Linked DNA regions of Homo sapiens. The protein of the gene in region 1 purifies or fractionates together with the protein of each later gene. This does not show direct contact. Each region holds a gene or a part of one and is shown in the gene's direction. Other genes may lie near its edges.

Region 1 (3,654 bases):
TTTTCCTGGGACTGCCTGGTGCTTGTTCTCCCTGGCATTGTCTTCAGGTCAGGGATTTTTCTTTTTTCTTTCTTTCTTTTTTTTAAATTAAAAATAGAGATGGGGTTTCGCCATGTTGCCCAGGCTTGTCTCAAACTCCTGAGCTCAAGCAATCCACCCACCTCAGCCTCCCAAAATGTTGGGATTACAGGTGACAGCTACTCCGCCTGGCCAAGTCAGGGATTTTTTCTAACACTATTAGAATTAGGTGGTGGAGTTGTTTGTTCCTTCCCATCAACAGTTTTAAATGCTGCTCATAGTTTATGTCTTACTGTGATTGTATTTTTCCTTTTTTTGCTCTTTAAATTTTTTTCTTTATTTTTTTTCCTCACAGAGAAATCTCTTACTTTTTTTTTTTCTTTTTTGAGACGGAGTCTCGCTGTGTCTCCCAGGCTGGAGTCCAGTGGCGCGATCTTGGCTCACTGCAACCTCTGTCCCTGGGGTTCAAGCGATTCTCCTGCCTCAGCCTCCCAAGTAGCTGGGACTACACGCCATGCCACCATGCCCAGCTAATTTTTTGTATTTTTAGTAGAGACGGGGTTTCACCATGTTGGCCAGGATGGACTCCATCTCCTGACCTCATGATCTGCCCACCCCCCAGCCTCCCAAAGTGTTGGGATTACAGGCGTGAGCCACTGTGCCCAGCCTATTTTTTTTTTCTTAAAATTAAAAGCTATAAATGAAGTATAATCACACACAAGCACATCTTCCATCATTAAAGTGGAAGTTCTTTAAAGGCTGTGACTTATTTATCTTTGAATCCTCTTGATGCCTGCTGTGGGGTCAAACTGTTGGGGTTAAAATTCTGGCTTACAAGTTGGGTAATTGGGAACAAGTCAGTTACCTTCTCTAAGCCTCAGTATTCTTATCTGTGAATTGGGTATAACAGCAGTATCTACCACATAGGGTTGTTGAGATTAATAAATACATGTAAGGTTTTTATATTAAAATTCAACAAATGGTAGTTTTAATTTCTCAAAGCATTTAGCAAAATGTCTTGCACATGGTAAACACACAAATAAATGTTTGTTGAACATATCAGTGAACATTTTGTTAAGATAATTCAGTTTGTTATTGAATTCTATTAATGAAGTTTTTAATCCTCATAATTTTAGGTGAAACAAATAGAGAAGAGAGACTCGGTTCTAACTTCGAAAAATCAGATTGAAAGACTGACCCGTCCTGGTTCCTCTTACTTCAATTTGAACCCATTTGAGGTGAGCCGATTGATGTTGCTAGGGCCTCTGTAATGGGGGAGATTTGCATAGCTGCAGGCATACCTACATCAGAATACATACCTAATTTATATCATAGTTAGGATTGAGAAAAATGGTGGAGTAAAGTGATGGAATCTGTATAGTACAAAATTGAGTATTCCTTATCCAAAATGCTTGGGACCAGAAGTTTTTTGGATTTTGGATTTTTTTGGGATTTTGGAATATATACATACATTCTGCTTACTTACTGGTTGAAGCATCCCAAATTAGAAAATTCAGAATGTTAATGAGCATTTTCTTTGAGCATCAGTTGACTCTCAGAAAGTTTCAGATTTTGGAGCATTTTGGATTTTGCATTTTTGGATTAGGGATATGTAACCTGTATATAGATTGTCTTTAAACTTGGGTGATTGTACCGAGCAGAACTGGAGAGACAGCATGTTAAGGAAAGTGAGATGGTCACATATCTTTCATCATCTTTTAGCAACCCAAATATATAAGGATTTAATTTCAGATGTGAAGGGGTGGCTAGCTCTAATAAGTTTAGGATTCTTTTTTTTTTTTTTTTTTTTTGAGACGGAGTCTTGCTCTGTCCCCCAGGCTGGAGTGCAGTGGCGCGATCTTGACCCACTGCAACCTCCTTCTCCCAGGTTCAAGCAATTCTCCTGCCTCAGCCTCCCGAGTAGGTGGGATTACAGGTGCCCACCACTGTGCCTGGCTAATATTTGTATTCTTAGTAGAGATGGGGTTTCACCATGTTGGCCAGGCTGGTCTCGAACTCCTGACCTTGTGATCCACCCGCCTCAGCCTCCCAAAGTGCTGGGATTACAGGCGTGAGCCACTGCGCCCAGCCTAGGATTCTTGATTTAAACTACTTGTTAAAACTTCTGTTTCACTATAATAAATGCCAAAAACCCAACAACAACAAAACAAAGATCACAAGATTTTAGATAAATGAATATACTTTTTGATTTTCTTAATTTTATAGCTTTAAACTTTTCCTGGTTATAAAAGTAAATCATATTTGTTGCAAATGTACAGAAAGCAAGAATAATCATATATAATCCCACCTAAGAGAAATAGCCACTCCTGTTTACACTCAAACTGTTTTGCTTAAAAACAGGGAGCATCATACACTTAATCCTTCTTCTTCTTCTTCTTCTTTTTCTTTTTTAAAGAGATGGGGCCTCATTATGTTGCCCAGGCTGGCTTAGAACTCGTGGGCTTAAGTGATCTCCTTGACCTGCTCAGCCTCTGGAGTAGATGGGATTACAGGCATATGACACCACACCTGGCTCAGCTCAATACGATTTTATTTTATTTTATTTTTTTGAGACAGGGTCTCACTGTCACCCAGGCTAGAGTGCAGTGGTGCAATCATGGCTTACTGCACCCTTGAACTCCTGGGTTCAAACGATTTGCCCACCTTGGGCTCCCATAGTGCTAGGATTACAGCCATTCGCCACCATGTCCAGCCTCAGTGCTGTTTTAAATGCTTTTTTTTTTTTTTTTTTGAGATGAAGTCTCACTCTGTCACCTAAGCTGGAGTGTAATGGTGCAATCTTGGCTCACTGCACCTCCGCCTCCCAGATTCAAGTGTTTCTCTTGCCTCAGCCTCCCGAGTAGCTGAGATTACAGGTGCCTGCCTCCATGCTTGGCTAATTTTTGTATTTTTAGTAGAGACGGGGTTTTGCCATATTGTTCAGGTTGGTCTCGAACTCCTGAGCTCAGGCGATCCACCTGTCGCGGCCTCCCAAAGTGCTAGGATTATAGGTGTGAGCCACCGCGCCTGTCCAAAAAAAAAAAAAAAAAAAAAAGAGAGAGAGAGAAATTCTTTTTTTTTTTTTGCAATGCTTGACAAGATGTTAAATCTGTTAACATCTTTAATCATAAATGAACTCTTCAGAACTCAGTACAGACTAACATTACACGGAAAGTGAAAATAAAAGGAACAGAGGAAAATGGAATAGTACAAATGAGTTATAAGGCTATATGAAGATGATATATAGTTAATACTAATAGTTGAGAAAGCAATTTTATTATAAATTACATTATTTGTGCTTACAAATATTGATATCTGATGTTGGTACAGCTTTAGAAAATGAAGAATTCTCAAATACTGAGGAAACTTACTCTAGTCATGAGGAGTTTACTCAAAAATGTAGATTTGTGCATAAATTTGGCCCCAGCAGTTCCAAACCACAGCAATCACTCCAACAAAGTAGTTGGGTACACACACATATACATACATGTTTACTACACAATAGATGTGTAAGTAATATGTCACCCCCCAAGAAACTTTTTATGAACTGGTTATAAAATAATAGACTGGGGGGTAAAAAAAATTCCATATAATTTATTTAATCATTTCTTTATTGTGGAATAGTTTAGCTAGTTT
Region 2 (3,654 bases), on another chromosome or scaffold:
AATCAAACATTTATTAAAACACCTTTTGTGTGCCAGGCATTGTGCTAGGCTTGGAGATACTAAGACAAGCAAGATGGAGACTCTTGCTTAAAACTTTTCAATGGCGGCCAGGCGCGGTGGCTCACGCCTGTAATCCCAGCACTTTGGGAGGCCGAGGCTCGCAGATCACGAGGTCAGGAGATCGAGACCATCCTGGCTAACAGGGTGAAACCCTGTCTCTACTAAAAATACAAAAAAAATTAGCGGGGCGTGGTGGCAGGCGCCTGTAGTCCCAGCTACTCGGGAGGCTGAGGCAGGAGAATGGCATGAACCCGGGAGGCGGAGCTTGCAGTGAGCCGAAATCGCGCCACTGCACTCCAGCCTGGGCGACAGACAGAGCGAGACTCCGTCTCAAAAAAAAAAAAAAAAAAACAACTTTTCAATGGCTCCCTATTACGTCTAGGATAAGTCCCAAGCTCCTTAATGGGGCCAAAAGGCCTCAATGCCCTGACCCTCAGCTACCTCCCTCAGGCAGGCTCATCTGAGTGCACTCCCACCTCAGATTTGGCTTCATCCATACAATTTCTTACACATACCATGTCGTTTCCCCCATTCTGGAGTGTCTCCTCATCCTTTCTTTGGCTAACCAGCTCCTACTCATCCAGGAAACCTTCCCTGGCTGGCTCCAGTGTCCCTCTGTGCTTCCACAGCCCCCTGTCCATAACCATCTCTGCATCTCCTGCATTCTCCTGAAATGATCCGTCTTCCTCACTAGAATATGAGTTTTCTGAAGGAAGGTACATGGCTTGTTCATCTTTGTACTCCCAGTGCCTGGAACTCAGTAGTTGTATAGGAAATGTTTATTGAACTGAGCCCTTAATTCAACTGTAATTCTTAGGAACATCAGCCTCTAGCAGTATGTAGGCTGCCATTGACACAGAAGTTACCATAGTAGTAAAATGACATACTAGTAAAATGTAAGATGCTGCTAATGGTTCTAGGAAGACATCAATAGGCAATGTAGTAGACTCTAGAAATTTGGACATGAATGTATTCTTTAGCCAAAAATGGGTAGTGGGAAATTTGATCTTTTTAAAAAATGTATTCTTAGAGATTTTACTTACTGGAATTGTGATGCTTGAACACATAGTTGTGGTACATGATAGAACTCTTACAAGAACTTAGGAGTCTGCCCTCAGAAGGCAGGGTGTTAAATTGGATGCAAAGAATCTGGGCCAGGCTTCCGGAGCTTTCATTCACCTATTAGCACACTCATTTGTGTATCCATTTTCTGTGAAGGGTTTATATAGGGCACAGATTTCCTGTTTGAAGAAAGATGGGTCAGATTAATTTAGCTTGATGTTGTAAAGCAAGCTTGTCCAACCCACGGCCCACGGGCTGCATACGGCCCAGGATGGCTTTGAATGCAGCCCAACACAAATTTGCAAACTTTCTTAAAACATTATGAGATTTTTATTTGTGATTTTTTTTTTTTTTAGCTTGTCAACTATCATTAGTGTTAGCGTATTTTGTGTGGCCCAAGATAATTCTTCCATTGTGGCCCAGGGAAGCTGAAAGGTTGGATACCCTTGTTGTAAAGTGTCTGGCCGAGTTCCCTTTTGAAGTGTGGCGTTATGATGGAAATATCCACTCCGGTTGTGTGTTGGACCTTTCTGTAAACATGGAGGTGCAGTTTAAATGAGTACCTGTCATCTCTTCTCTAAAGGGGGAGCAGCCTCTGGGAGTGACAGTGCTGACAAGAAGGCTCAAGGTCCCAAAGGTGGTGGCAATGCAGTAAAGGTGAGTTACTGGTTCCTTTTTTTCCATGTTAAATATAAATTCTGTTTATGTGTTAGTACACATAAAAGACAGAATGCTTAACTCATTCTAACAGGCTAGCCTAACACTGGTATAAAATCAAAATAACACAAAATTGTAGCTGGGCGCACCTGTAATCCCAGCACTTTGGGAGGCCAAGGCAGGCAGATCAGCCTGGCCAAAATGGTGAAACCCTGTCTCTACTAAAAATACAAAAATTTGCCTGGTGTGGTGGTGTACACTTGTAATCCTAGCTACTTGGGAGGCTGAGGCACGAGAATCAAGAATCGCTTGAACCAGGAGGCTGAGGTTGCAATGAGCTGAGATTGCACCACTGCACTCCAGCCTGGGCAACAGAGTAAGATTCCATCTCAAAAAAATAAATAAATAAAAATAAATTTTAAAAAAATGGAAAATATAGACCAGTCTTGCTTATGAAAAGTAATTCCCTTTAAATATTTTGTCATGTACTTTCTCAGATACCCAGAATTTCTTTATAGTTTTTTAGTATTGTTCCTTAAAATGCATTAAGTTAGATCTTCCCAGTAATTGAGTTATTTCTTAGGACAAAATAATATTTTATAAAACCAAGAGATTAGATAAGTGTTAAAAGTCCTCTGCTGAATAAACAGGCAAGGGTGCAGGTCTCTTTAGAAAGCTTCCCCACTGGTGAGCCACAAACCAGGGTCTTGACCATGAAAATGGGGGCAGGAGAAAATCAGCAAATAATTACTTGAAATACTTAACCTAGCCCCAGAGGAGTATCTGCTGGGAGAAAATTTAATCTGCAAACTAGTAAGTGCTATGTAACAAGGCAATTTCCATGTTTTAGTCAGGATATGGGAGGCTGTACTTTGATTCATTCATTCAGTAAGGACTTAGTGACATCTGCCCTGTGCCAAGCAATGTATTAGGCTCTGGGGATTTTTTATCATGTATTTATTTAATAAAAAAGTAAGAGATGGGCCAGGCACAATGGTTCATTCCTGTAATCCCAGCACTTTGGGAGGCCAAGGCACGAGGATCACTTGAGCCCAGGAGTTTGAGACCAGCCTGGGCAATATAGCAAGACCCTGTCACTAAAAAAGTAAAAATAAAAAATCAGCCAGACGTGGTGGTGCACAACTGTGGCCCTAGCTACTCAGGAGGCTGAGGTGGGAGGATCGCTTGAGCCCGAGAATTTGAGGCTACAGTGAGCCATGATTGTGCCACTACACTCATCCTATGCAACAGAGCGAGACCCTGTCTCAAAAAAATAAATAAAAAGTAAGAGATGGTCCTTGTTATCACAGGCTACTTGGGAGCAGTTAGGTAAAGATATGTATTTCATTGCTGTATGATAAGCATAGCAGTGGAACTGCATCATATAAATTCAGCCATACATGTGTAGCCTAAAAAAGAGAGATCATGTAAATGGTGTGGACTGTTCTGCCCACTCTTCTATTCAATGAACCTATGCCCCACAGAGAGAGAGAGAGATGAGAGACATGCACCTGCTTTTCTATAGTTGCCCTGAATTCTTGTGTGAGCATCCAATCATGTGAAGTGGGGTTCTGGTATCCAAAGATAAGTTTTCATAAAACATAGCCCCTAAATACAACCCAGTTACTTCATGTTACAAACGGAGTACAGCGTTCCTGGCTATGTCTGGGCTTAAATGAGAGCTGACATGCTGGTCTCCCATATGACATCTTCATAAAGGGATATTCTAGGGTAATTTTGGCTATATGCAGTTTTCACCTAATATGTTTTCACAAGCATCTAACCTAAGAGACTGTTGCACTGCATATGGCTTTAGCTACTTTTTTTTATTTTTTTTTTTGAGACGGAGTTTCACTCTTGTTGTCCAGGCTGGAG

Evidence for each region. Proteins that work in one complex are often made in the same cells at the same time.
Region 2: the proteins of DNAJC8 (region 1) and PIN4 fractionate together in Homo sapiens (co-fractionation; one large-scale study listed by BioGRID). This does not show direct contact.

What each region holds. Positions count from the first base shown.
Region 1 is NC_000001.11:28,226,524-28,230,177, reverse strand, and holds part of DNAJC8 (dnaJ homolog subfamily C member 8), read left to right. Parts: exon of another isoform or gene 1-47; intron 48-1,154; coding exon 1,155-1,256; intron 1,257-3,654. UniProt on the Homo sapiens protein: Suppresses polyglutamine (polyQ) aggregation of ATXN3 in neuronal cells.
Region 2 is NC_000023.11:72,184,756-72,188,409, forward strand, and holds part of PIN4 (peptidyl-prolyl cis-trans isomerase NIMA-interacting 4), read left to right. Parts: intron 1-1,705; coding exon 1,706-1,779; intron 1,780-3,654.